Homo sapiens: one gene and its partners. The protein of the gene in region 1 purifies or fractionates together with the protein of each later gene. This does not show direct contact. Each region holds a gene or a part of one and is shown on either strand. Other genes may lie near its edges.

Region 1 (7,328 bases):
GAACAACTTTAATAAAAGGCTTAAAGATAAAATTGAAGAAAGGTTCCAGAAACTATAACAATTGAAAAGAGATGGAAAAAACAGAATGGAAACCTTAAGAAATTTAGAGGACCAGTATGAGGTCTGACATCTGTAAATAATTAAAGTTTCAGATAAGGAACATGGAAGATGGAGGAGAAGGAAGTCATCAACGACTTTAACAATGACAATTATTTATTCAAGAAAATTTTTCCAACCTGAAGGACATTGAGTTTCTTTGTTAAAAGGGCCTACAAATTCCCAGTCTAAAAAGAGAAATGATGGTTAAAAAGAGAAATTATACCAGAGTTCGTCATCATATCTCATATCTTTGGTTAAATAAAATTTTTCAGGTTTTCAGAAAAAAGAAAAGCAAAATGATATTGGAACTAATACAATGCAATATTGCCCAGCAAAGAACAAACTACTGATATATGACTAGCATCAATGAATTTCAAAAACATGTTGAGCAAAATAAGCTAGGCACAAAAGAGTACATACTATATATGATGCCATTTATATGAAGTTTAGGAACAGACAGAATGATTCTGTGGTAATAGAAATCAGAACAGTGGTTGCTTGTAGGTGTAGAGAGGGATTGGCTGGAAAGAAGCATGAGGAATTTCTGGAGGAAATTTGTTATATGTTGATTGTGACATGGGTTACATGTTTGTATATGTTTGTCAGAACTCCTCCAGTTGAACACATAAAAGATCTGTGTATTCACTATATGTAAATTTATCATTGATTTTAAAAATAACTATAAAAAAGGTATTGGTTTTCTCAACAATGGCACCAGTAGTCAGAAGACAGTTTACTGCCTTCACAGTTCTAAGCGGAAACCTACAAGTCTATACTCAATCAAACTATGAATTAATGTGAAGGTAGACTAAAGATATTTTCTGACATTCAGGGTCTCAAAAAATTTGCTACCAATACTGCCTTTCTCAGGAAGCCCCTACAAGTTACCTGCTACCAAAATGAAGAAATAAACCAAGAAAGGATCTTTGGATTCAAGACAAAGGTGGGTCCACCCAACTCTAGAGATGAGAGTCTCCAGCATGATGCTGATGAAAGAGCACAAGATGATAATTTTGCAGTAGGCCTAGAGAGCAATCATTTCATACTGGAGCAGGTTGGAAGACTTGGAGCGATTTCTTCAAGAAGATAAAAATGATAAAATACCTGATACGTGTAAACATCCTGAAAAACAATTTATACAACTAGGAAAGACATTGGGTTGAGTTAGAAATGAAAACTAAGCAAGTAAAAAGAGAATCACTTCAGGGAAAACAATGTAAAGGAAAAGTGAAAAATCACTTACCATAGGCATAATAATGTAATCACTGAAAACTGATGTTACTAAAGTTGTGATTTAATTATAGTGAGAAGATGAGGGATGGGCAGAGTGTTTATTGGGGCAAGAGATGCAAAACAGTGTAACCCTTATTTTCCCTGGTGGAAAGTGAATCAGTAATGCCTAAAACCCTGAAGTAGCATCTTGTACAAATGTTACTTAGAGATTTGTTTTTGTAAAAGCAAAAAGGAACAACTGAAAAAAAAAGTCACAAAAAAAGTAGTTGCATTTGGAGAGTGGAAAATGTGTATGGGGCAAAGGACTTCTGTTTTTTTTTTTTAACAAGTTTTATAAAAATGATTTGATTGTAAATTATATGCATTTAACTTTGATTAGACTGTCAAAACAAAATAAACAAAAATAGAATCAGGGGATCCTGAAAAAGTAACTTGGAAGAATATACACCAAGATGTTAATTGTGATTTTTGCTGACTCATGAGATTACGAGTGATTTTTATTTTCTTTTTCAAATTTTCTGTGAACTTGGATTACATTTGTAATCGAGAGGGGAAAAATAAAAATAAATGTCATTTCCTGTATAAGAAGATGAAGATGAATATGTTAATGTATTCATAAAGTCACCATTGATGTTCAGAAGGGGACCATCTCTCAGAGTGAATTTCGTCTAGCAGAGAAAATTCATTTTGATTGAGACAGTGAGGAGATAGAAATGTATGAGATTCTTAGAAAAATTATGTAGCTGTTAGAGTGCCTGTGTATAGAAATAAATATTGTCTTCATTTAATCTTCATTTCAGTAACTCCTTTGTATAATTTAAAAAACTTTTTAGTTCAGTAGCATAGTAACATTTAATGTATATTGTAGTATTATATATAATACTGTCATTTAAAGAAATACTTGAAAGCTTTAAAAAATTTAAATTTACTGCATCTACTGCCTTTATATTAAACTTTCCCTTTTTCTTTTAACAGAGAAACAGGAAAAGGAAATTGACATCTATGCTAACCTGTCTGATGAAAAGGCTTTCGTGTTTTCAGTCGCCTTGGCAGAAATAAATAGAAAAATTATCAATCAAAGACTTATTCTCTGATACTTGTTTGCAAAATCTGCTGAAACTTCTGTCAGGATAACATCAGCAAATTCTCAAACAGTTATGGACTCTCAGGAGCATTCTGACTGCATCAATAAGGGCCATCGATTGTTTCTTTCTCGCCTGTCGTTTAGCCTGTGCCACACTTCGGGAGCAAAGCTGTGTAGGCTTGGACTGTTCTGGGATTTCCTTGTTTACCAAGGAGTATTGTCAGTGTTTTGTGTTTGGGATATAAGTAAGTGTATTTGCCAACAACAAAAAAAAACCAACAAAAATGCTGGATGGATGTTAAAGGATAAAAAGTGATGGGGTATGGGGTAGGTATGAAAACTAGGGTAATAAGATGCTTGATTGTTTTCAGGTTTGCCACCAGAGATGCAATATTTTAAATACTGTCAGAAAGAGTGATTTTTAAAAATATATATTTCAGATTTTCAGTGCTAACAGATTGCATATATACAGTTCATTTACTTTTATTAAATTGGCAATCGATATTTTATTGAATGGGGAATTAAGAATATAAACTGTAAATTTTGTCTTAAATTGATTTTTTTTCTTGGCCTTTATTTTTATTACTTAAGGTATGAGTTATATTTTAGGAGATACTTTCTAGACAGTTTGAAGTTTGGGTGCTATATGAAGAAAAACATTTAATGATATACTCAGATATAAACACCTTGTTTTCTTGAATGTAATTTATTTATTAGCTAAAAAAAAAAAACAAACTGCTCTCAAGATGGTGCCTGTTAACCTAAACATGAAATATATTTATTACATGCAAAATATTTCTTAGCCACTTTTAAGCAGTAATGTTTTATCTGAATGGATATTTGTTTCTATATCCTGATAATTATTTAAATTGTTACTTTCAATCTGGAAGAAAAAATAAACCTTAATATTGAAACTAAGTAGATTAAATAGTGTGATAAAAGTTTTTTGTTCTGGTGAAGTTTGTGAAATATATTTAAATTCTTAATTTTTCTAGTGTTAAGTCATAATCGTTTATAGTTGATTTATATTAAATGCTTTTGCATTTTGGCATATCAATTTAATGATTAACATATTCAAACTTGGTAATCACTCCCCTTATTTTCAGTCGCTCTTCCCCCAATCTGTTTAGAAATCCTTTTAAAGCCTTCTTACAGAAGATAGTCATCAGTTAGATTTAGCCCCCTTTTAAGAGAATCTCCCTTTCAATTTTAGCCGTAACATTATCAATTTCAGACTTCATCCTGCATCTCCCATCACCTCCTCAAAGAAAAAAGGTCAACATTTTTTCCTACTTTATTTAAATGGTAACCAGCAGAGGGAGCTTAAGAGGTACTCTAGATAGGATAAAGAATTTTCCTAAGGATTCCTTTTCCTTTAATCCCTGTATCTATCTGCAGGTACTACTGCAACTATTTTGTATGCATTTTATTTATTTATTTAGGAGACAGAGTCTTGCTCGGTCGCCCAGGCTGGAGTGCAGTGGCACTGTCTCAGCTCACTGCAACCTCTGCCTCCTGGGTTCAAGTGATTCTTATGCCTCAGCCTCCTGAGTAGCTGTGACTAGAGGCGTGCGCCACCACGCCTGGCTGTTTTTTTTTTTGTATTTTTTAGTACAGATGGGGTCTCAGCATGTTGGCCAGGCTGGTCTCAAATTCCTGGCCTTAGGTGATCTGCCCGCCTTGGCCTCCCAAAGTGCTGGGATTACAGGCATGAGCCACTGCACTCAGCCTTGTGTGCGTTTTAGAGTCTTAACTAGTAGTTTCCCCAATAATGTAATGTGATTTTATCTTTGAAACATACTGTAAGGAAACTTTTGATTTTAAGTAAAAAAGCTTAAAAATGATTAATATCTAAAAATGCTTGTATACATATATATGTCCTCAGAAAAAGCAAGAACAGCTTGTGGAATAAGCACGTCTTTAAGGAATTATCGATGTCAGAGTCTATCCATTTAAAGCTGAAGACCATTACAGGAAAGTCATGTTAAAATATTCATTGGATATGGTAAAGGAGGTACTGGTGGCTGGGCTGGAGCTTGCCGTATAGAAAAGTAATTACTTCAGATCTCATAATGTTAAATTATTGGCTTATTTAAAAATTTCCGTGGCAGAGAGGCAAATTAGGTTTCCTCTGTGACATAACCTATTTAACCAATTTTTCAAAAAATTGTACTCTATGAGCTTTCTTGTTATAAAGCTAAAAAATTTAATTTGTCTAGGCATGTTGTAATGGTCCCAGAAAATATTACTTTGTCACTGGTGTCAGAGAAACCTCTGTCATCAGCAGATGTCCTAAGAGTATAATTATAGTTCTTTACTTAATCCAAAATTTGTTCTGCTCTGATATCTATAAATGATATGATTATTCAAAATACCTTGAAATGATTCCACAATTAGATTAGGTCTGTTGAAGATAACTTATTCTTAAATATGAGTAAGATTAAATAAAAGTAGTTTGAGAGTTGTTACTCCCTGCCTCAACTCCATGGTATTCCAAAATGTTTTTGTGGGCACTTTAATACTTGTAGTTTGATTTTGTTTGTTAGTTTTAGAAATGAACATTTCTTAGATTTTCATGGGTATTTTTTGGCTGTATTTAAATGTAAATGATATAAAAGTAAGGGAAATTGTGCAAATTATTTCTTGTGTAGTAATCAGTGGAAGTGATCAAACAGCTTGAAGCAGTTTATGATGAGAAAATTTAAAATTGCAAATGACCTGAAAATTTAGCCAGTCTATTCTTATTTCTTTAAATTTCAGAAATACTTAAGAAAAAAAAAAAAAAGGTCAGTATGACCTCTGAGTTGCTTCCTAAAAGTAATCAGATAGTGTTCTCCCTCAGATAAGATTTCAAATTGAAAAGTATTTGACTTCTTTAACTCTAGTAATTGCACTTGATTCTCTAATTCTGATCATTAAAATGACTTGGCAATATTTAATTTTGGCTTGCCTTTCAATCTGCATGTTTGTCTTAAATTTAGAAAAATTAAGCTCTTTACTTACTTTTATATAAAGTATTAATTGGCCAGGCATGGTGGCTTACACCTGTAATCCCAACACTTTGGGAGGCCAAGGCAGGAGAGTTGTTTGAAGCCAGGAGTTTGAGACCAGCCTGGGCAACATGATGAGACCGCGTCTCTACAAAAAGTAAAATTAGCTGGGTGTGGTGCTTCCAGCTACTAGGCAGCTGAGGCTAAAGGATCACTTGAGCCCAGGAGTTCGAGGCTGCAGTGAGTGATGATCTTGCCACTGCACTCCAGCCTGGGAGGCAGAGCAAGAAACACCCTGTGTGAAAAAAGTATTGAATTTGTTTGATTCCACTTTCAAAATATGCTCTAGATACAGGTAGTCATTCTGCCAAATTGTGTTCTTCTCTAAAACATTTTGTCCGTCATTCTTTGAAACTCATTCTTAATTATTTCCACTTTACCTTCTAGTTTGGTTTGATGCCTTATATTCTTGCTAGTTAAAAGCATTTTTTCCCTAGTATTTTCTGTCTTTCTAGCCTTTAAGGCATATTGTTGTTAACAAATCTCTTATTTAAGTTAATTAAAGTTTTTTCTGTGCAGCTGGGTTTTTTCTTTTACTACATGACAAGCTTCATTTTTACATTTGGAAGTACATGTATATATGTTTATATATTTTTATTCTCAGGATCTATTTTCTAGGGAACTATTTTTTTAAATTATTCTTTTGTGCTGCCTTAACCCATTTATTATAGTTTGAATATTAGTAGTACTTACTACTCAAAGATTACAACTATACTAATAACTATCCTAACATACAAAGCAGACTCTCCAGGATTAAAAGTATGAGACATATAACAGAGTCTGGAATAGAATAATTCTTTTTACCCCAGTCAAGTATTTGCCTTTTGCATTATTAAGGAATCTGTTTTGTTCTTTTATTGATAATTTCTATATTTTTTTCTTTGCCTTATTGCACTGGTTGGGACTTTTTGCCTTGATCCAGTTGTAGGGGGGAAACATTCAGTCATTAAGCATTAAATAACTTTGTTGTTGTTGTGGGCTTGAAAAAATACCCTTTAGTAGATTGAGGGTAGACTCTTTTATTTCTGCTTGTTGGAAGTTTTCTGTCAGGAACAGATGTTGAATTTTGTCAGATGCTTTTTCTGCATAATTGATAGGACCTTTTTTCTCCCCTTTAGAATGTTCATATGGTGAAACATACTGATAGCTTTTCTTTTCTTTTTTTTTTGACACGGAGTCTCACTCTGTCACCCAGGCTGGAGTGCAATGGTGCGATCTTGGCTCACTGCACCCTCTGCCTCTTGGGTTCAAGCTTCCCTCACCAGCCTCCCAAGTACCTGGGTATACAGGTGTGCATCACCATGCCCGGCTAATTTTTGAATTTTTAGTAGAGATAGGTTTTTACCATGTTGGCCAGGCTGGTCTTCAACTCCTGACTCAGCCTCCCAAAGTGTTGGGATTACAGTCTCGCTCTGTCGCCCAGGCTGGAGGGCAGTGGTGTGATCTTGGCTCAATGCAACCTTGCAACCTCTGCCTCCCGAGTTCAAGCGATTCTCCTGCCTTAGCCTCCTGAGTAGCTGGAATTACAGGCGCACGCCACTACACCCAGCTTCTTTTTGTATTTTTAGTAGAGATGGAGTTTCACCATGTTGGCCAAGCTGGTCTCGAACTCCTGAGCTCCGGTGATCCACCCGCCTTTACAGGCATGAGCCACCGTGCCCGGCTGCATTTCTCTTTTGTAAGAACCTGCTCTGGTTTATTGATATTTTGCTGTTTTTCTGTTTTAAGTTTCATTAATTTCTGATCTTTAGTATTTTCTCCTTTCTTTGCTTTGGGCTTATTTGCTCCCTTTTCTAGCTTATTGTGGCGGAAGCTCAGATCATTGATTTTAAAATTTACTTATTTATTTATTTATTTATTTA
Region 2 (8,016 bases), on another chromosome or scaffold:
TGCATGACTTCTGACTCCCCGACACTTGATTAATAGCCTCCTGCTGGTCGGGAGCACTGCCGATAACATCAACAGTTGATAAACACATATTTTATATATTGTATTATGTACTGTATTCTCACAAAAAAAGTAAACTACAGAAAAAGTTATTAAGAAAATTGTAAGAAAGAGAAAGTGTATTTACTATTCATTAAGTGGAAGTGGATCATCCTAAAGGTCTTCGTCCTCATCATCTTCACGTTGAGTAGGCTGAGGAGGAAGAGGAGGGGTTGGTCTTCCTGTCTCGGGGTGGCAGAGATGGAAGGAAATCCATGTATAAGTGACCCATGCAGTTCAAACCCGTGAGGTTCAAGGGCCAACTGTACAGCAACGTACAGCAAAGCCACGGAAGGGAGCTGGGGCAGCCACTGGCCCTGGAGTGACTCTGGCAACAAGGCTGCCAAGGACCAAGGAGCACCTCAAGCTCTAAGTGGAGACTGACAGGACCCATCCAGCTTTAGAAAGTTTAGCTCCGTGGTGGCAGAGGGCAAACAGAAGACAGAGGGAAGGAAGAGCCAGCAGGGCCCCCAGGGGGAAGGGGCCACGGGACTGGAAGCAAGCAGCACAGAGTGCATGGCAGCTGCAGGGGCATCTCACGCCTCCTGCCCTGGGGTTGGCCTGGGTCTGGCAGAGATGGCCTCACCTCTTTCCAGGACACAGCAGGTGGCCACCAGCCCACAACCACTCTACACAGCCACACGCGGTGTGAAGCCACAGGGAAAGCATCCTAAGTGACCTCTGAAATCACCCTCAGCCCCCTCTAGGACCCTCTGGGTAGGGGTCGAGGACAGGTTCTCTGGGCAACGGTTCCTGCCTCAGTCAGGGGCTGGCTTTCTACTCCCGCAACCAGGAGCCTGACTAACAAGGGGATGGCAGGCGACCACATCAAATGAGGCCCCAGTCTGGACGGCAAGTTGACAACAGTCCCGCAGGCTTGAGATCCACACCGAGTAACAGGGAGTTAACATATGGCCCCAGGAGAGGTGGTCTGCAGGGTCTGAGGAGGATCTGGCCCTTATATGACGTGCCATTTAACAGGAGAGCTAAGGCAGAGGGGGGCAAAGAGGGAAGCGGCTGGGAACGGCAGAAAGGGCCGCTAACAGGGAGGCCCTGAGCAGCCTGGGATCCCCAAGTTCATTTCCAGGCGACTCTGAGTTCCTGGAACTTACCACGGAATACAGACTTCATGGATCTTCTTCCTCCCGCTGCCCCTGCCTGGTGTCCAGGTGCAAGTCTACTCTCAAAGCAGGTTCCCAGGGACTCTACTTCACTCACTCAGAACACTCTGCATGTTTCCCTCTGAGTTCACTCCCAGGAAAGACAAAGTCCTCTGTTTTGTCAAAGTGGAAGCAGGAAAAAGAGGGGGAGCAGGCCAACGGTATTCCAGGCAACAAAAAAAGCAAAGGAAGCGTAAACAGCATTCTAGAAACAAGGTCCAGAGGACAACAGGCCACAGACCCAGGCGTCCACCAGGGTCTTCAGGCAGTAGAAGCGGCAGCCAGCTACTCAACATAAAGACTGCACCAGAGGACTGGGTGCAGAGCACAGACCAGCCCTTCCCCCAGGGCAGCCCCCACAGGTATAGAGTGCACCAAAAACACAAGAGGCCACCCTGCAAAGCTTAACCCAAAATGACAGGGTGGCAGGTTCCATTCGCCAAGATGGCTGCACCTACCTCTCCCATGCCCCAAGCCCTCTCCCCAGTGTGACTGAAACAACCTCCTCCTAAGAGCCATGCTTGACCCTCCTCCCACCCACACCAACTCAAGTGCCAGGCGCTTGTTGGACTACCCAGCACCCCACTCCTCCGTCTGACCAATGTTCCCTGGGCGCCCACTCTGGGCTCAGCAAGGCAGTGGCGTGGTGGTTAACCTGAGAAACAAGTTCCACCTGCCTCCACCCACATGGAGTTGCTAGTTTTGGACACAGACAACAAACAAGTGGACATGTATGGTACCGAGAAGAGAAAACAGGGCGCACGGGCTCTGCAACTGCGGGTCAGGGAAGGCCTGGGGGGCCTCAGTCGAGGTGGAACCATCGTTGGCAGCCCCCAAATGGGTAGAGTGCACCAGCAAACAGGAGCCCAGGGCCCTAGAGTAGGGGGCAGATCCGTGGGGACCACCTCACAGGGCTGTGGGACTCAGCAAGGAGGAGCATTTTATCCCAGGGACCATGAAAAGCCATGGAGGGTTTTAGGTAGGAGCAAAAGATGGTGCTCTTAGGTTTTTAAAAGATCAATCTAGTATGCCTGAGAAAAGTATGAAGCATTCCCGTCTGCCACTGTGGTGCTTATGATTATTCTGGGATACTGATACAGAATAAAGTAGCTAGTACTGATCACGTGCTATAAAGTTACAAATTGCCACTTTTACGGGTTAAAAACAGTGGAATATCGTCAACTTCACAAGATTCAACTTCCATGTACAAGCCGTTGTGGCAGGACCTCATCAGACCTCCTAGCTCTGAAGGGTGACCATTAAACTTCCCATTTCAGAGATGAGGAAAAGGAAGTTCTGAGTCACTGGGCAACCTGCCCAAGACCACACAGAACAAGTCCGGTGGTCAGACAGCTTGCCATGGCTCCTCACGCTCAGCACCTCATACTTGTTGGTCCTAACCCACCCACGTCTCTCTCTGACCAGACTCTGCATCCCTGTAGGAGAGGCCCTGTCTGCTCCATTCACTCCCAGATCCTCAGGCCGAGGACAGAGCGGGACCTCCTTAGAAAATCAAATCAAATTCACTCAACAGGGCACCACCCCAAAGTGTAAAACAGGGTTAACAGGAGCAGCCGGACCACAAGCTGCTGTGCACATTTACGGAGCTCAGCCTAGAGCAGGGCAGAACAGCCACATGGCAGCTCTGGGGGAGGCTGGCTTGGGAGTCTGACTTGTGCCATCCCAGACACAGAGCTACCTGTCAGGCCACGTGTGTTGCCCAGATTCCAGGAGCACAACTCATTCGACCACCACGTCGCTGCAGGGCCACTGGGAGACGCGGCTTCTGCCTCCGACCCTGGAGGACAGCCACCATCTGCATGGGGACTCAGTCTCCCTAAGCGTCTCAAGAAGAACTAATTCTCGATGAAGGAACTGGCCGGTGGTCTGGCCTAGTATCGAGACACCTACACCGTCTTTGGCATAAACACAGGGCCTGTTACTGCCCCTGAGGTCGTCACCAGGGGGAGAGAATGGCCAGTCCTGCCTCCCACAACGCCCAAGACATAAACACGCAACGTGGCACCACGGCCAGGCCGCAGTTCCAATCCCGGCTTCCCACGAGGCGGCTGTGCCTGGCTGGGTGGGCACCTTTTCCTTTGGGCTCTATCCCAGAGATAGGATCAGCTCTTGAGTCTGCCCGCCTGTCGTAACTTCTGCGCACAGAAGTCATGCACTGAGTCCCACTGACTGAGCACCTCGCAGCCGCCGCACCTTCACCTACATTATCTCTTTCCATCTTCACCAGGGCCCTCCAAGGTGAAAGCAAGTCCACACAGGCTCATCCACCACTCCAAAATCAAAAAAAGCTTCAAAAGCGAAAGTTTCTTCCTTCCTGGTTTGACCTGACACGAAGCTATCTGTTGTCTTATCCTAGACAGTCCTAGGTGGGTTTGATCAAACATCACAGTCCAAAATCCCACAGATCCTCAAATTGGAAAAATTCTGGATTCCAAAATATAGCTGGTCCCAAACATTTCAGATAAAGGGTCCCGGGCTTGTTTCCTGGACGAGGGAGGAGGCTCCAGAAGTAACTTCGTGCCCGGGAGAGGCTGGTCCAACTCTTCTGAGATCAGCCCCGACGCTCTCTAGGCCCCGGCAGACCCACCCACCCTGCGCCCAGTTCGCGCCAGGCGGGTCCGCGTCGGGAGTTCAAATCCCGCCCGGGGTCTGACCCAGCCCCGCCGGGGGGCTCGCGGGCGGCGGAGGCGCGGTGGGTCCACCGGGATCCCGATGGGGAGCGCGGGGCGCCTGGCGGCCCCAGCACTCGGCAAAGTTGGCAAAGGCGCGGGAGGGGAGGCCTGCGCGCCGCGGGGCCCGGGCCGGGGCCGGGAACCGGAGCCGGACCCTGGAACGGAGCCGCGCGCCCACCGGACCCCCGACACCAGCCCCGCCCCGCGTCCCTCCCCTCCCCCACCCCGGCCCCCGCCCGCCCCGCGCCGCCGCGCATGCGCACTGCAGCCCGCGATGTGGCAGCCGGGGGAGTTGGGGGGTGGGGGCCGGCCGGGGGCGGCCGCCGATGGAGCCCCGCGCCCCTCCGGCCCCGGACGGGCCAGGCGCCCCGGCCGGCCTCAGAGCTCCAGAGCGGGGCTCTCCGTCCCTGGGGCCCACGACGAGGCCGAGCCACGGCGGCGGGGGGCGCGGACGCGCGGGGGCGGGGGGCCGGCTCCCCCGGCCCGCTCACTCACCTCCGCCATGGCCGTGTGTGCGCGGGAGGCGGTGGCCGCGCCGGGATCCCCGGATGAGGGGCCGCGCACTCATTGGCTGTGGAGCCTGGAGGGCGGGGCAGGGGGCGGAGCCTGGAGGGGGCGGAGAGCGGGCCGGGCGCGTAGTAGGTGCGCGGGCGCGGGCGCGGGCGCGCAGCCGAGCGTGGCCGGCGGCTTCTGGCGAGCTTGCGGTGTCTTTCCGGCCGTCTCTGCTGGACCCTGATCTTGGCCTTGGCCTTGGCGGAGGAGACTGCATTCCATAAAAATACGAATTCCTGATAATCACACCTGCGTGGGGACCACGTGGTCCTGTGTGACCTCTTCATTCCCTCGGCTGCTCGCTGTTAATACCCCGCGTGGCAGACTAGGAAACTGAGGCCCAGGGCGACGGGCCACCCAGAGTGTCAGTGATAGAGCCAGAATTGGTGTCCGGGCTGCGTGGTTCTGGAATTTTCTGCACTTTCGCACCCGTGATGAGCAAACTAGCGCGCGGAGGAACCAATCGGGGAGCTTGCGAACGCGCACCAGTCGGAGAGGTTTTAGAAACGGTGGCCCCGCGCCGGAGAGCCCAAGGCGGGAGGCAGGGAGGTGGGCTTGACCCCAGGGCCATTTGGTTCTGCAGTCCGTCGTTTCGCAGATTGAACATTTCTGGAACACGTGCACGTTCTGATCCTGAGGGTTTGAAGGAGACAGCCCTAACGCCTGTCTTCAGGGCGTTTAGAGTGGAGGATGGGAAGGCAAGGACTCGCCACACCTTAAATTTGAGACGGATAAGTGCCGTGAATCTTCGGGGCGCACGATGCAGAGAGAGGATAGGAAGCAGGGGTGGGGCGTGAAGAGGCAGGGGCCAGGTGGGAGCTGTGGGGCCTGGACCAGAGTGCAGAGAGACTTGAGAAGGTGGACACCACAAGACTCGCTGATGGAGGGAAGCTGGAGAGAGTGAAGGATGGCCTCCAGATGTCTGGCTTGCGCAAATGAGTGGAGGGCGGTTCCTACTGAGACCAGGAAGAAGAGAACTGGAGACCAGGAAGAAGGGAATTGGGGACCAGGAGGAAGGGAATTGGGGACCAGGAAGAAGAGAATGAGTCTCATTCCTGTTTCCCAGTGATCAGCCAATGAATAGTGAGAACTTGACATGCATCAGCCTTGATTCCTGATGCAAAATCATTACTCAGTCCTCTGAGAATTCACCAACCAAGAGATAGAAGAACCACTCTGGAGGGGTCTACCCTCACTCCTTTTTTGGTTTACATCATTGAGATTGAGGGTTCTGGCCCTCGTGTTGAAGAGTCCTCACTGATTTGTGCAAGAGTTGGTTCCTTCCTTTATTATTCATTTGTTATTATTCATTCAGTCATTCAGTGAACTAAACACATATCTTATGCAGTCCTCAACTGGGTGCTGGGTAGCCAGAGGTCCTGTGAAGCAGGGAGAAGCATGAACAGATAAGAGAGTGAGGTGCTGTGCTGTAACAGGTGGAGGGGCCCGAAGACAAGGGCTTGAGTCCACCTGGCAAAACGAGGGAAGACTCTTAGGAGAGGGCTTGGCAAGAATCATCACATAGATGTCAAATGAGGACTTGGGTGAAGAGAAGGGTATTGTGGCTTGGAACGGTGACTCACACCTCTAATCCTAACACTTGGGGAGGCAGAGGCAGGAGGATCACTTGAGGTCAGGAGTTTGAGACCAGCCTGGGCAACAGGGTGAAACCCTGTCTCTACTAAAAATACAAAAATTATCCGGGCGTGGTGGCGAGTGCCCATAATCCCAGCTATTCTGTGGAGGCTAAGGCAAGAGAATCACTTGAACCTGGGAAGGCAGAGGTTGCAGTGAGCTAAGATCACTGCACTCCAGCCTGGGAAACAGAGTGAGACACTGTTTCAAAAAAAAAAAAAAAAAACTTTAAACATTAGAGGGCATGACGATAATGTGCCTGTAGTCCCAGCTACTCTGGAGGCCGAAGTGGGAGGATCTCTTGAGCCCAGGAGGTCGAGGCTGCGGTAAGCAGTGATTGTGCCACTGCACCCCAGCCTGGGCAACAGAGTGAGACCTGTCTCAAAAAAAAAAAAAAAAAAGAGTGAAGGATATTTTAAGGTCTGAAAGTCTGTCTCCGTAGACTGTTAGTCGCAGTGGAGAAATGAAGCCACTTGTTGGGTGGGTGATAAAACTCAGCATCCCTGGTAAAGGGCAGGTGCACACCATGTGCACCTGGATGTGGTGTCCAAAGCAGGACACGGCATCACTGAATCCAGCCAGCAATGCACAACCCATATCTACATATGAGGAAATTTCAGACAAACCCAAATAAGGAATATTCTGTTAAACAAAAGAGGGACTGTATTCTTCAGAAATGTTAATGCCACAATGGGGCGTGGTGGCGGGTGCCTGTAATCCCAGCTGCTCAGGAGGCTGAGGCAGGAGAATCACTTGAACCCGAGAGGCGGAGGTTGCAGTGAGCTGAGATTGCGCCACTACACTCCAGCCTGGGCGACAAGAGCAAAACTCCATCTCAAAACAAAACAGGCCAGGCGCTGTGGCTCACACCTGTAATCCCAGCACTTTGGGAGGCTGAAGCAGGAAGATCACGAGGTCAGGAGTTCAAGACCAGCCTAGCTAGCATGGTGAAACCTGATCTCTACTAAAATAATACAAAAAATTAGCCGGGCGTGGTGGTGCACACCTGTAGTCCCAACTACTCGGGAGGCTGAGGCAAGAGAATCGCTTGAAACCGGGAGGTGGAGGCTGCAGTGAGCCGAGATGGCACCATTGCATTCCAGCCTGGGCGACAGAGCAAGACTCCGTCTCAAAAAAAAAAAAAAAACCACAGCGACAACAACAAAAAAAAGTTAATGCCAGAAAAGATAAACCTGTGTAAATCTTTTTTTTTTTTTTTTTTTTTTTGAGATGGATTCTCGCTCTGTTGCCCAGGCTGGAGTGCAGTGGCACAATCTTGGCTCACTGCAAGCCCCACCTCCCGGGTTCACGCCATTCTCCTGGCTCAGCCTCTGGAGTAGCTGGGACTGCAGGCATGTGCCGCACCTGGCTAATTTTTGTATTTTTAGTAGAGATGGGGTTTCACCATGTTGGCCAGGATGGTCTCGATCTGTTGACCTCGTGATCCACCCACCTCACCCTCCCAAAGTGCTGGGATTACAGGCGTGAGCCATAGCACCCGGCCAGTACGGAGGGTTTCTACTATACTCATTCTTGCAATTATTCCATGAGCATAAAATGAAGTAAAACTCAGAAAATAAAGAGCAGCGAATCTTGAGCAGGGAGCTTAAGGGGAGAGGCTGGAGAGGGTGCCCCTGGCCGTGGCACAGTGGTTTGAGTGGACACCTCACGTTGGAGGAGATACGCCTGCATGTGCCTCCACTCCAGGCTCCCTGTTTCTTCTCTGCCTGGTTTTCATGGTCACCGGGCAGCTCCCAAGTTTGACAGAGGCATGGTGTCCCGGGATGAGGGTCCAGGTCACCGCATCGCTACACCTCTTGGAGCAGATGGAGACTGCGTGGTGGAGCTGGGGGTGATGAATCCATTGCAGCCCCGAGGCG
Region 3 (7,328 bases), on another chromosome or scaffold:
AGGGTTGGTGATTCTCAGTGATAAAAGCATATGAAAGAAGCAGAATGATCTCAGAGGGGCAAAACTTAGGGGTATTCGAAAAGCTTAATAGGCAATGTTCCCATCCCCCATCCCACATGTGATCAGGAGAGTATTCTGAATCTACAGGTACACAAGCGCTTAACAAATGCTCCTAAGTCAAATTTATATAGTCTTAATAGACATTACTTTTTAATCACTTCCTAAATAAAGTTGAGAATAATTCAAAGAATACACTTATAAAATCTAAAAGTCCAACCACAGAGAATGTTTAAATAAATGAATTACAAGTATAGGATAAGTACACAGTATGTTGAAATTTAGGGAAAAATTTTTTTTAAAAAGTATAGGATAGACTATACAGACATCAAGAATGAGGTATTAAATAATTCTCAATGGCAAAGGAGAATAAGATTAATTAATTAAAAGGATATAAAATGGCATCTCAAGGAAGACATATGTAAAGGTATTTTTTTAAAGACCAGAAGAAAAGATACAAAACTACAGTGAAGTTATCTCTAGAACTCAAGGTTATGGTTTTTTAAACCAGTATTTTGCATATTTTAAAACTCTTATCAGAAAAGATATCTACCTCACATGTTAAAAATATCTGTATCAAATATAAGAAATCAAGAAGATACTGTAAACTGGCTGCTGTTTCAACAGAAGCTGAAGTATACCTGTTCATTGTCCCTTGTGTGTGTTCCTGCAGAAATCCTATCCATTATTTTTTCACTGCCAGTCCTTAATGAAGTCTCAACAAGGTATTCCTTAACTTTGCTCTCCAAAACCACATCAGGACACCAAAGTAACTGGTCTTCGTTTTCATATACTGATAAAGAAAATCCCATTAACACATTAAAAATCATGAACGCACTCAAAGATGTACACAAACAATTCTTTGTCTTCCTTGATTGGCTATCCAGTGGGACAAGTAAATAACTTTGAAGACACCAGTAATCCGATTATCCGTTAAGTAGGGCCTTTCACACACAAGCGAAAATTTAACTTTATTATAGGCCAAGGATTCCAGGGGCCAAAGCAAGTAGCTTTTTTGGTGGTTGGATATACTGACCAATCTGAAGGCTCTCCATGCCTAGTAAAGTCTAATATAAAACCCCATAGTGGTTATCTTATACTCTTCTAATGAAGGGGCAAAAATAACCTGTGTAAATTCTCTAATAACCTCATTGGACTTTTCTCTTGAAATCCCTAAATTGCTCTATGAAATCTCTAGAGGTTCAAAATTGCAAATAAATAAAACCCAAAATATCTGGTAATAAGGAAATACCTAAGAAGGGTATACTTTTTCTCCCAACAAGATAACTTTTATTTAAAGGAGAAAATAGATTAACCAAACCTCCCTAGGGAGGTTTTTGGGAAGAGGGAGAAACAGTAAGAAAAGTAAACTTTCCACAATCTCTTAAAGACACTGATATATTAATGAACAAAATGTCATTAAAACAAGTTTATGTTTTATTAATGCACTCTGCCACTTTACTCAAAGCTTCTACTTTACACTATAAAGTAATATGAATGGCCCAAGTATTTAGTCCAGTGCTTCAAGTGCAATCTGTTCTTCAAGTGCATAATAAATACTGACTATAGCTAATAAAAATAATTTACCGAGAACACACTACCAGATACCAGGGACCATGATAAGGGCATTATCATCCCAACTGTAGGAGGCAGGCATTGTCATTGCCAGTTAGAAGGAAAGTTAAAAATAAAGTGTGCCTGTGAAGCAGTAAGACTTGACTTTTGAGAGAAGTTCCTAGAACTTTCTTTACTCTTTGGTCACAAGTGAAATAGGTAAAACAATTTGGGTTTATTCCCTCAAAAGACAGAGAAAGTACACCTTCCCTCCAATCTGCAGCACTGACAGAATATCACCTCTACTATGTGTGACCTAAGGACCTACAGTTGCTGAGTATGTACTTGGCTCAAAGGCCAAGTGTGGCATTTGGGTGGTGAGGTGAGAAGGCTGGCACATCTGAACATCATCAGCTATGTTTTGCTTCCCCTGGGATAACTGTCTTTTAACACTTTGAAAGCAGTTTAGGAAAACGGTGTTCCTAGTGGCTGCCATGGCTAACAACCCCAGGGTAACCACTCCTCCCCTCCTTTAAATGGAGGATGACCTGGCATGGAGGAAAGGAAAAAAGAAGGACTCAGGAAGTATTGTGTTGGGTGCTGCTTTTGCCCTTGTGACTTCACAAGGATAAATCAACTTAGGGAAAAGGCCAAACACCCATGGAAATATTCCCAAGTTCAACTAAGAAGGTTTACCTATATTTTTATATCCTACTACCTTATCCCCTCCATATTTTGAAAACCAACTACAGTTGGAATGCACCAAAAACATGAGGAAAAACTGATTACACATAATTAGGAGTATACAAGTGAAAGCAGATCCTTACATTTCACTTCCTGCTCTTTTGGGGCTGGGGAAGGAGAATTTCTTCCAGTCTCTTTTTCCCTCAAGAGTTTTCTTTCCAGAAGATTATATCTTAACATTCTCATTATCTCAGGTGATGAGATCCTACCCACTTCTACTGAAGCAGGATGAAGGCCAAGGTACAGCACCGTGGGAGGCTCCCCATTATTCGAACAGGCACTGAGCACACTGGCTAATAAGCACTATGTGTGCCTTGGGCAGGGTTGGGGGTGGGGGGAAACTCTGAGTCTAGTGATTAACTTTGATACATTTTTCCTAAGTCAGGCCTAAAAATCCTAACTCTGCATGTTTCCCAAATCTATCTATCTATTGCCAAGGCTGGTATAAAGCCAGATATTTAAATACACTTATCAAGTGGTAACCTTATCTACCAAACATTATCAAAATCAAAAGCTTTCCTTACCTTTCTCATTACCATCGTACTCTCCAAGATAAGGGGGAATCTCTGCCTGATATTGTAAACCAATCATTATTTCCTACAGGAAAATTGAGAGGTAAAAATAACTTATTAAAAAAAAAATACTGAAAAAAAGCCCCATATCATTAATCAGTTTCTACAAGTCAAAACAACAAAATTATCATAAATCATTTCAGAAATATTTTTAAAAGCCAATTTAGTCCACTATATTAACTCAGCTTACCTTCCTCAAATCTTCAGGTGAATTACCACTGTCTGTTTCAACATCTTCAACCTCTGATTCCTTATCACCATCACATGCAGTATTTGCTTAAAAGACAAAAATTAAAAAGGTTTTTACTGCCTATTTTTGCAGAACCTGGAAGAATGCCTGTTGTATTTTACAAAATGTTGTTAAATATGTGAGATCAGCATAAGTATACTAAACCACCTGCATGTTTCTCACAATCGACATTGGTCAAAATGAGACACTGAAAATCCTAATAAAGTGTATAGTATCCTGGCCGGTGCAGTGGCTCTCATGGCTGTAATCCTAGCACTTTGGGAGGCTGAGGTGGGTGGATCGCTTGAGGTCAGGAGTTTAAGACCAGCCTGGCCGACAGGCTCTACTAAAAATACAAAAAAATTAGCCGGGCGTGGTGGGGGGTGCCTGTCATCCCAGCTACTCGGGAGGCTGAGGCAGGAGAATCGCCTGAACCTGGGAGGCAAAGGTGGCAGTAAGCCAAGATCACGCCATTGCACTCCAGCCTGGGCAACAGAGTGAGACTCCATCTCAAAAAAAAAAGTGTATAGTATCCTGATAATTATTATGGTATACTATTAAATAGTTTGGGAGGTAAAAGGAAACCACTGTGGTCACCTTAAAAAGAAAGTAAAACACTGGAGTTCTGATTATACTAATCCAGGAGATACACACACAGAGTTGCATATCAGGTCCATCAAAACTGTTTTTGTACACACACGAATGCATGGATATTTGAACTTATTGACCAAACAGTTCTTCTATCATAAAAATACCTAAAAAAAAAAAGTGAGATTGCATCTAAGAAATTATTTTAGTCCAAACATTTTATTTATTTATTTTTAGAAACAGGGTCTCACTCTGTCACCCAGGCTGGAGAGCAGTAGCCTGTTCATGGCTCCCTGTGACCTCAAAGTCCTGAGCTTCAGTGATCCTCCTACCTCAGCCTCCCAGATAGCTGGGACTACATGTGCATGCCACTATGCCCAGCTAAGTTTTTTATTTGAAAATTTTTTTGTAGAGACAGGGTCTTGCTATGTTACCCAGGGTGGTCTAGAACTCCTGGCCTAAAGTGATCCTCTCATCTCAGCCTCCCAAAGTGTTGCAACCACACAACCAACCCCAAAACCTTTTAAATATTACTGATAAACATTAAGAGGTAACACCAAGAACTAATAGGAAAAAGATGAATCATTAAAAGTAAAAATACCTTTTGAGCACTGATAAGTTTTCAAAACCAGGAGAGCAGGAGCCTTTTAATAGAAATTCAAATAAAGGTCTATAAAATTTTGTGGTCAAACTAAGAATGATTACCATAGCAACAGATGAGTCTTGAGAAGGAAAATGGCCTTGTAAAAATAAAGTCAATATTTCCATTTTTATTTTATCTTATTATTATTATTATTATTGAGACAGAATCTCTCTCTGTCACCCAGGCTGCAGTGCAGTAGCATGATCTCCAGCTGGCTGCAACCTTCACCCCCAAGGTTCAAGTGATTCTCGTGCCTCAGCCTCCCAAGTAGCTGGGATTACAAGTGCATGCCACCACACCTGGCTAATTTTTTGTATTTCTAGTAAAGAACAGGTTTCACCATGTTGGCTAGGCTGGTCTCAAACTCCTGGCCTCAAGTGATCTGTCTGCCTCGGCCTCCCAAAGTGCTGGGATTACAGGTGTGAGCCACTGCACCTGGCCAAATATTTCAATTTTTAAATGGCATATTAGTTCACCTCTATCCCAAAAGAAAGGTTATAATCTTGTTTAAATTATAGAAGTATTTTATCTCAACCACATAAAATATTAGAATATTCTGACACAAATTACTGAACACAATAAAATGTACTAAAGCTACAGTATCAATGTTACTATTTATCAGTAATCCACTGGGTTTCTTACATCGTAAAGGCCTAGGGAAGAAATCAGAAGTTTCATGGGAAGTCACAGATGGCGTCAGATCATCCGCAGAAGACTGAGTTTCCTCGTCATCACCTGACAACAGGTCTTTTGCTATTTCCTCCTGGAAGAATAAGAAGGCAGTGCTACAGTTAGAAATGATTACATCTCATTAATTAAGAAAACTATCTTTTTATAACATATCATTAAGAAGCAGTTGGAACCTTATGAGAGAAATATGAAATTCTCCTATGATTTACTTCATGTACATAAATATTTAATATTATATATTATATAATATTCAATAATATACTATTAAATGATAATCAGTGCAACCATATACTAAAACAATTGCCTAATTTGTGGGTATGCAGAGAGCTTATCTAAAGCTGTAGGCTAATTTTTAGTGAATTTACAACAAAAACAGTCTGACTTTTAAGTGGTTAACAATTATATTCATTTTCTGTCAATAATAAAACTGAAAAAATGCCTCCAACCTCCACTCTTCCAATAATTTAAAAGTCCGACTAATGAACAGCACTGACTACTGACATAATTTTAAAAGAAACAAGTTTGAATTAATTTTTATGTAAGTATACAGTCATCCTTGTGCCTAGCACAAAGTAGCCACTCAATAAATACTTGTTGAATGACTATGGTCATTAAGGTCTGTGGTACATTAATATCACATTGACTTAAAAGTGGGAACAATATAACTCACAGGAAGAGGTTCCAAGATGTGGATTCCTCTCCCTGCCTGAGATCTGAAAGGCAAGGAAAGGTTCCCAGGGATCTGTTAGCAGAGGCCATGGCCGTGTGAATTTTCCTCAGCAGGGACTAGGCCTCCCCACAACCAGCCTACGTTAGAGATGGATCACCGCGGTCTTGGCTGCTGCGGCCGCTGTCACTCCCAGAGCCAAGAAAACAGAACTTCTCTCCAACCACTCCACGCCTAAGCCAGCTTGGTTTGAAGGCTTCTGGGGGATTTATTAATCAAGGCTTTTATGTGTTTATAGGATCAAAAGAAGTTAAGGCAAAATCTAAGTTTAGATACAATGTGTCTACACAGGAAAGATGAAAACATTATGGGAGAATATTCAGGCATGCAAAGTACCATGAAGCTGCTATTAATACTACTCTTAACATAGGGTGATCAAAGCCAAACAAAGTTTAAATCAGCCACCAAAATAAGCACAATGGGTCAACAAGAAGTTTACATTTAAGAATTATTAAATAATACTTTAAATGGAAGTAAAAGCAGTCAATGGTAACAGACCCTGAATTTTTCTTTCAAATGCTCACACTTACTTTGTCTAGTGTCATGTCTGGTAGTTCATCTGCCAGTTCACTTGGGGAACTATTTGCACTGGAATTTGCAACTGCTGGAATTGTAGGTTCATAGCCATAGAATGCCAGTAAATCTTCTAGAGGCATGGTTCCTTCCTGTTCAAGCCAGGGCATAAACACGGACTCAGCAGATGTCACAATACTGAACTGCAGGTAAACTGTACTGTCCTTAGGTTCAGAAAGCACATTATCAAAACAGCAGAACAAATCAAAGGCAAGTTTCAGTTTTTCTTTTTGTGCTGTTGTCAGAAAACAGGACCAAACACCTGGAGCTATAATTAATGTATAAACAACAGCCTAACAATTAACACCTTAGTTTTTATTTTCTAGAAGCATTTTACTATTTTAAAAATTCCTCAAATATTTGCTTTAGTGCCTTTTTTTTTGCTTTCAAGTTAACATAAAGATTTGCCCTGAAAACATTTCCAATTAATCAATCAATAACTTGTAATTCACAGCTTCTTTCCTTGCATTTAACAGCTGACCACTTGCTTTATTCTTCATGTTAATTAGAAGACACCTGGTAGAAAACCTTTGCTGAATGTTTACTAACATCAGCAATATTTATGTTCAAAGAACAATTATCCTTTTATATTCTTACTACATCTCCTATCTTTATACCAGTTTTTTTAAAACAACTGTCTGAGGAAGATTATACTGTTATCACCATTTCACAGGTGAGAAAACTGTGGCTTAATTCTGGGTTTGAATCCCAGTTCCCCAAGTTATCTCACTGGCTGCACTGCTTTAATAAAATTACATACCCTGGCTACAGTGCTGCCTATGTTATGAATACCTACGCCATGCCTCACAGTGACACCAAGTCACTGTTCCCCTCTAGGAATCCATGTGAAAATAAGTGTTACCATGCACAACGTAACATTCAGTACATGCAGACTGCATATACAGCCAGGATGCACATACAGCTGTGGTAGGAATAATATGCTACACCATA
Region 4 (7,328 bases), on another chromosome or scaffold:
AACTGCTGAGATTACAGGCGTGAGCCACCGCACCAGATCTGCTGCTATTCCTTGGGCACCCACAATGTGTGCTCTCTGTTGTATCCAGAGAAGGATGTGTGTGTGTGTCACAGGGAATTGAGGCCCCCCTACTGCCCTCAGTCTCCTGCCTTGGGACTGTTAGTGAGAGGAGTGAACCCTCCCTCATGGAAGCTGCAGTGTTTTGGGGTCTCCTTGTGAGAACAGCTCAGTCTTGTCCTGAACTAACCCATTAGAGTGTGTGAGGGAGCATTTCACTACCTTCACTTACACAGGGACTCCAGCGGGCCACTCATTCTGTGACTCGTTTTCACCTGGCTTCATTTCAAAAGAAACCTGTCTCACCACTGTGAGCAGAAAACCCCAGCACCATCTGTTAAAGCTAGAGAGTAAGTGTAAAAATAAGCTCCAAGAAAATGGGGCAATGGACTTGTGTTCTAGCAGGTCCTGAGGCTGGCTTCCCATGCAGAGGTTGCCTGCGGAAGTCTGGGGGCTGAAGGCCTGTCTCTTCCTCTTTCCGCAGGGATGTTGGGGCAAATTAGCATCAAACTGTGTCATCCTTCTTGCCACTGTTTAAAGCTTCATGGTCCTTCAGGGGGCATTTTACCTGTTACCATCGCTGCGAGACCTGCCCCTGACATTAGACCTACAAGTGTGCTGCACACCCCCACCAACAGTCCCACCAGTGGACACCCAGGACCTGGCCTCATGACCCTCATCAGTCTGACCTCTGACACACCATGTGTTTCACCCTTTAGCTCCTGTCTCCCGCAATAGGATGTGAGCTCCCTGAGGGCAGGGATTTTTGTCTTACTCATTCCTGTATCCCCAGGGCCTAGAACAGAGTCTAGCACATGGCAAGGGTTCAGTATTTGTTGAGTGAAGGTAGGCTGGGTCCAGGAACCACCAGTTCACCTCATAAGCCTCCTCCACTTGGGAAGCAGCACGTAGGTGACATGGGCTGTCTCTGGAGTTGAATGGCCCAGGTTTGAGCCCAGGAGCCCCTGCTTAGTAGCTGTGTGGCCTGGACTGATTACCTAAGCTCTCTGTGCCACAGATCACGAGAGCACGCAGCTCAGAGCAGTTGTGAGGATGCAGGGGAAGCACCAGGGGCAGTGCCTGGCACAGACAAGTGTATAATAAATGTTAGCTTTGAACAGTCAGTAGAAGGAAGTCAAAATGACGACACACATCCCCTTCTCTGAAGGAGGATGAAATTCTGGGCATGGTGCCACTTATGCCAATTAAACACATACCCAAGAACATCATAGAGTTTTTAAGGACACAGATGCATCTAAACTAACACATTTAGGAGTATTCAGAAGTAGTGAACTAGGTGTATAGTTAAAGTTAAAAACATAACATTGAGTGAAAGAAGGCAAGAAACAGCATGAGGTTTAGAGCATAGTGCCATTTATACAAATTAACACACAGTACCACCATATATAGTTTAAGGACACAGACATGTCTATAGAAAATTGATTTAGAAGCCGGAGTCAGAAGCAGTGAACTCGGTCCACATGTAGGGATAGGGTTAAAGCTGAAGAGAGCCAGAGACAGATGAGACGCAGAGTGGAACATCACTTACGCAAATCACACACAGCACCACGGCCAGCATGCGATTTTGAGGGTACAAATACATCTAAGTGAACACATCAGAACACATGTTAAGTGTGCTTGAGCAGCTGTCCATGGTTGAGAGAAGGAAGTTGGGAGACACGAAGGGAGTAAAATAAAACGAGAAAGGCTTCATGTGAGGGAAGGACTGGGAAGGACTTCACGGCACACTAAGGACAGGGAAACATGAGGGACTCAACGCCATTTACTGGAGGGTTCACCCTCTTCCCACTCTATATGCCTTCCCAGATAATCTCATCCTCTCCTGGGGCTTCAGCTGATGGCTCCGGAGATATTCCCGGGGTCTGAGTCTCCCTTTAGACTTCACTCCTGCACTTCAGACGTAGATGGCCAGCTGCCTCCCAGATGACTTGGGCAACAAGTCCAAGACGGAGTCTTGCTTTGTCACCCAGGCTGGAATGCAGTGGCGAGAGCTCGGCTCACTGCAACCTCCACCTCCCGGGTTCAAGCAATTTTCCTGCCTCAGCAGGGATTACAGGTGCCCACCACTGCTTCGGCTAATTTTTGTTATTTTCAGTAGAGACAGAGTTTCACTATGTTGGCCAGGCTGGTCTCGAACTGCTGACCTCGAGATCCATCTGCCTTGGCCTCCCAAAGTGCTGGGATTAAGGCGTGAACCACCGTGCCCGGCCTGGGCAACTGATATTCATGTCTGAAGTGCATGCCTAGCACGCCCGCTAGGATCAGCTGCCCACTGTCCTTGGTGCTGAACTCATACCCACAGCGCTTCCCTTTTGTGCTCCGCTGTCCCTGGTGCTGAACCCACATCCCTAGCACTTCCCTTTTGTGTCCCGCTGCCTGCTGTTCTTGGTGCTGAACACACACCTTAGTGCCTCCCTTTTGTGCCCAGCTGCCTGCTGTCCCTAGTGCTGAACCCATACCCCTAGTGCTCCCTCTGTGTCCAGCTGCTCAATGCCCTTAGTGTTCAATCTCACCCCAGAACTTCCTCATATGTTCCGCTGTCCACCGGCTTTGGTGCTGAATGTTTAAACCAGCACTGGTAAGACCTGGTGGTTTACACAGAGGTGAAGGCACTGATCTGGCAGTGTGGACACTGCATAGGTGGTGCTACCAGTGCTGAGGCAGGGCCTGGGCCTATCCTGCTCAGATTGCCTGCATGTTTGTGATGAATGAGTCATAGTTTCCCACACACAATGAGCTTTTTTTTTTTTTTTTTTTTGAGACGGAGTCTCGCTCTGTCGCCCAGGCTGGAGTGCAGTGGTGCAATCTTGGCTCACTGCAAGCTCCCACTCCCAGGTTCACGCCATTCTCCTGCCTCAGCCTCCCAAGTAGCTGGGACTACAGGCGCCCGCCACCATGCCTGGCTAATTTTTTGTATTTTTAGTAGAGACGGGGTTTCACTGTGTTAGTCAGGATGGTCTCGATCTCCTGACCTCGTGATCCGCCCGCCTCTGCCTCCCAAAGTGCTGGGATTACAGGCGTGAGCCACCGCGCCCGGCCACAATGAGCATTTTCTCTGAGCCAGCCCCTGTGCTAAGTGCTGTGTGCACCTGACTTCCCTGAACTCTTTGCAGTCCCATAAGGTAGTAGCTAGTAGGAGACCATCTCATGGAGCAGGACACTGAGGCTCGCAGACGTTAACACCCCACAGTGGTGGTGCCAGAGTCTGAGCCCAGGCAGTGTGGCTCCGGAACACCTGCCTCGCCTGCTGTGTGGACACTGCAGCACATGCCTGTGCGGCTCAGAGGACTTGGGCTCTGCTGGATGCCACCTCCCCTTCCCTCCTGCTCCCAGTTGGGCTCTGGGCTTCTGTCCACCTGCAGGGGTTCTGCTGACCACCTGCAGGGGTTCTGCTGACCCCTAGACTCACTTCTGTTTTTGCTTCATGATGTCCTCAGTGTTGGGAAGGCAATTTGTCCATGGCAGAAACCCGTAGAGCCACTTCAGCATGCAGTAGCCCAGGCTCTGGAGGTCGCTGCGGCGGGAGGGCCCTGGGGAAGGAGGAGTAAAGGTGGCAGCTCAAGTCTGGACGCTCCACTCACTGGTGGGTCCACCCCCCTTCCTTCCCCTCTCTCTCACTGACTCAACCACACACTCATACACCCAGCCTTCCAGCCATATGGGCTGTCTCCTCCGCTCATTCACTTTCATGAGTAGGCAGAAGCTGACTCATTCTCTCTCTCACTCAACCATTCTCTCAGCCCCTTTTACCAGGTCACCCTCATCCACTCCTCTTTCATTCATGCACTCATTCAATCAAGCCTCAGCACCCGTGTGCCAGGCCCAGCTCACTTCTGAAAACCCAGACCAGGATCTCGTCGGGTCCCAGCCCGTGACAGCCTAGTGGGGAGACAGCTATAGCGTGCGACTACCTGAGTGACAAAGGACACAGAACACACGGGAGCCCAGAAGGATGGGTACCAAACCCAGCCTCAGTGGGGGAGGGCGGGGGAGACTCTGACAGTTTATTTTTCTTATGCTTCCTGAGCATAAGACAACGCTTAATTTAGACAACGCTTTGTGTAAGCACTCGACAAGCACTACTTGTCCGTGCTGGCCTTCCACCACCCGATGCTGGAGGCAGGGGTGCCATCCCTGTACTGGGGGAGCTCAGTCTGATGGGAGGATGTGGCAGGCATGTGGACGGCCATGATATAAAGGGATGTGAGAAAGAGGGGCTCAAGAAATCTGCCCTGGGCCCTCTTCCTAGTCTGTACACTTTCCCTGGATGATCCCATCCTCTCCCAGGGCTTCGGCTGATAACTTCTGAGATACTGCAGAGCCTCTGCCCAGATCTCCCTCCCACACTCCAGATGTGGTGGCCAACCACCTCCTCAACAGCCCCTCCTGGATGACTCCTAGGCAACTCCCATCTTCCAAGTCTACAACAGATCCTGAACCCCAACCTCTGGAACTCAGGCTCCCCAGTGCCCAGCCTCCCACTATGCTTAGTGCTGAACCGCTACCCCACCCACCTCCCTTGCGGTCGGGACGCTGTCTGTGGTTCCAATCCCTGTCCTGGCGCCCTTAGTGCCTCTCCTGTCTGGCCACCTGCTGTCTCTGGCTGTGAACTCCTAGAGCTGCCCTTGTATAAGAAGCATCTCTCTGCGGTCCCAAACCCATCCCTGGCCTCGTACCGCATCCCTTGTGCAGGTCCATGCTAATGAACTCAAGGTCCCCCTCGTGAGGGCTCCTGCTGCCTTCCACGTAGGCCACGTGTTTGCCACTTGGGCAATAGCGGAAGGCGAAGCCATAGCCTGCCAAAGTCACCTGTGGACACAGGGAAAAGCCATACAGATTGGAGGTTAGGAGCGTAGAAGTCAGAGATTTCCATCGTGGGTGCAAGTGACAACAAACATTCTACCAAAGATGGCATTTTTCACTTACAAAACTAAGGCATGCTCATAGTAAAAATGATGTGAAGTAAAAAGAACCCAAACCAGCCATCCATATTTCCTCCCAGCCCCTAAAACCCATCGCCCAGAAATAACCACTAGTAACAGTTTCGTATGCATCATTCCAAAATTTTTTTTTTTTTTTAAATAACCAGGTAAACATATGTGGATGGGGAGGGGGCTCTTGTTTTCCACAGAGGCCTCACACCAGACCTCCTGTTGGGCACCGGCACTTTACACTTTAATAGTGGTTCTGGGCATTAACTCTGGGGCCAGATGGCCTGGGTTCAAATGCCAACTCAGCCCGCTGGTGGCGGTACAACCTTGGGCAAGCTATACCAGTTCTCTCTGCTATGATTTCTCCATTTGTAAAATGATGATAATAATAGTCCCCACCTCAAAGGGTTCTTATAAGGCTTAACTGAGTTTAAAACAAAAGTTAAATGCTTTCTGCCTGATACATAAAGTTAACCAAATCTTCTTTCAAAAATATCTACTTATTTATTTTGAGATGGGGTTTCACTCTGTCACCCAGGCTGGAGTGCAGTGGCGCGATCACGGCTCACTGCAGCCTCCTAGGCTCCAGTGATCCTCCCACCTCAGCCTCCCGAGTAGCTGGGACTACAGGCATGCACCACCATGCCCAGCCGATTTTTTGTAAAGATGGGGTTTTGCCCTGTTGCCCAGGCTGGTCTTGAACCCCTGGGTTCAAGTGATCCTCCTGCCTTGGCCACTGTGCCCAGTCCATGTCTTCTTTTCAATGGCTGCATCTTATTCCACCATATGGATAGTGGACAACTGTTGGTTTTGTCTATGTAAGACCTATATACACTTCCCCGGCTCCCTGTTTTTCTGTTTACAGTTTGTGGTGTTCATTAAAAAAATAATTTTTTTTTTTTAAGTTTTGAGACAGGGTCTCACTGGGTCACGCAGGTTGGAGTGCAGTGGTATGATCATGGCTCACTGCAGTCTCCATCTCCTGGGCTCAGGTGATCCTTCTACCTCAGCCTCCTGAGTAGCTGGAACCACATGTGTATGCCACTACACCTGGATAGGTTATTATTTTTTATTTTGTACAGATGAGGTTCCCTATGTTTCCCAGGCTGGTCTCGAACTCCTGGGCTCAAGCGATCCGATCCTTCCACTTTGGCCTCCTAAACTGCTGGAATTACAGGTGTGAGCCACTGGGCCTGGCCATGATGGTCATTTTTATGTGGCAACTTGACTGGGCCATGGGGTGCCCAGACATTTGGCCAAACCCTATTCTGGGAGTGTCTATGAGGGTGTTCTGGATGAGATGAACATTGGGGTTTGTAGACTGAGCAAGGCAGATTATTCTCCTTAATGTGGGTGGGTCTCATTCAATCAACTCAAGATGTGAATAGAATAAAAAGCTAAGTAACCAGAAGCTCCTCCTCCCTGACTGCTTGAGCTAGAACATTGGTCTTTTCCTGCCTTTGGACTTGAACTGAAACAACCCCTCTTCTTGGGTCTCAGGCCTGCTGGCCTTTGGATTGGAACTTACATCATTGGCTCTCCTAGGTCTCCAGATTGCAAACTGAAGAATCTCAGGACTGCTTAGCTTCCATTATCAATAAGCCAATTCCTTATAATAAATCTCTACACACACACACACACGCACACACACACACACCCTGCCAGTTCTGTTTCTCTGAAGATTCCTAATGCTTAGTTCCAGGATTTTCATCTGGGATTGCTTTTCCCCAGTTCTCAGTCCACGCAGTTCAGGTCTGTTTCTGCCAGGGCTGCTAAGCTTTGGGGATTTAAGCCTAATTTGCTGGTGGCAATTTTGTCACCATGAGGAATAAGTCTGCCTGACAACGAGCAGTGCAGAAGCATGAGGAGTCCAGAGATGGGAGAGCCGGCTTCCCAATGACAGGGTTTGAGCTCCTGGATCCTGCCGTGCCCGAGACAGTGCAGTCCTGGATTGCTCCATTCTGTGGACTAATACATTGCACACAGTCCCTTTTGGTTTTTGGCTTAAGGCATGTAAAGTTGGGTTTCTGTCATTTGTAATTGTAAGAGCAATTAGAAGTTACTTTAAAATACTATTTAATCAGTATCCCGCTTAAGGTGTTTCCCATTTCACTATTACAATCAGTGTTGCCAGGAACATCTTGTACACTTATCTTTGAACAATCCTATGAATATATAGGTAGGACACCTTCCTAAGACAGGAACTTGTGGATCAAAAAACAGGTGCATTTTGGCCGGGCACGGTGGCTCAGGCCTGTAATCCCAGCACCTTGGGAGGCAAAGGCGGGCGGATCACCTGAGGTCAGGAGTTCGAGGCCA

Evidence for each region.
Region 2: the proteins of C16orf87 (region 1) and MIER2 purify together in Homo sapiens (affinity purification with mass spectrometry; 2 studies listed by BioGRID and IntAct, with this or other methods). This does not show direct contact.
Region 3: the proteins of C16orf87 (region 1) and MIER3 purify together in Homo sapiens (co-immunoprecipitation; 3 studies listed by BioGRID and IntAct, with this or other methods). This does not show direct contact.
Region 4: the proteins of C16orf87 (region 1) and VRK3 purify together in Homo sapiens (affinity purification with mass spectrometry; one large-scale study listed by BioGRID and IntAct). This does not show direct contact.

The regions. Positions count from the first base shown.
Region 1 is NC_000016.10:46,798,050-46,805,377, reverse strand, and holds part of C16orf87 (UPF0547 protein C16orf87), read left to right. Parts: intron 1-931; coding exon of another isoform or gene 932-1,002; exon of another isoform or gene 1,003-1,042; intron 1,043-2,307; coding exon 2,308-2,426; 3' UTR 2,427-7,328.
Region 2 is NC_000019.10:340,330-348,345, forward strand, and holds the start of MIER2 (mesoderm induction early response protein 2), read right to left. Parts: upstream 4,468-8,016; 5' UTR 4,454-4,467; coding exon 4,445-4,453; intron 4,146-4,444; exon of another isoform or gene 3,496-4,145; coding exon of another isoform or gene 3,481-3,495; exon of another isoform or gene 185-3,480; intron 1-184. UniProt on the Homo sapiens protein: Transcriptional repressor.
Region 3 is NC_000005.10:56,932,549-56,939,876, forward strand, and holds part of MIER3 (mesoderm induction early response protein 3), read right to left. Parts: intron 6,470-7,328; coding exon 6,335-6,469; intron 5,151-6,334; coding exon 5,030-5,150; intron 3,204-5,029; coding exon 3,118-3,203; intron 2,953-3,117; coding exon 2,880-2,952; intron 851-2,879; coding exon 699-850; intron 1-698.
Region 4 is NC_000019.10:49,984,885-49,992,212, forward strand, and holds part of VRK3 (serine/threonine-protein kinase VRK3), read right to left. Parts: intron 4,888-7,328; coding exon 4,755-4,887; intron 3,609-4,754; coding exon 3,488-3,608; intron 2,050-3,487; coding exon of another isoform or gene 1,953-2,049; exon of another isoform or gene 1,415-1,952; intron 1-1,414. UniProt on the Homo sapiens protein: Plays a role in the regulation of the cell cycle by phosphorylating the nuclear envelope protein barrier-to-autointegration factor/BAF that is required for disassembly and reassembly, respectively, of the nuclear envelope during mitosis.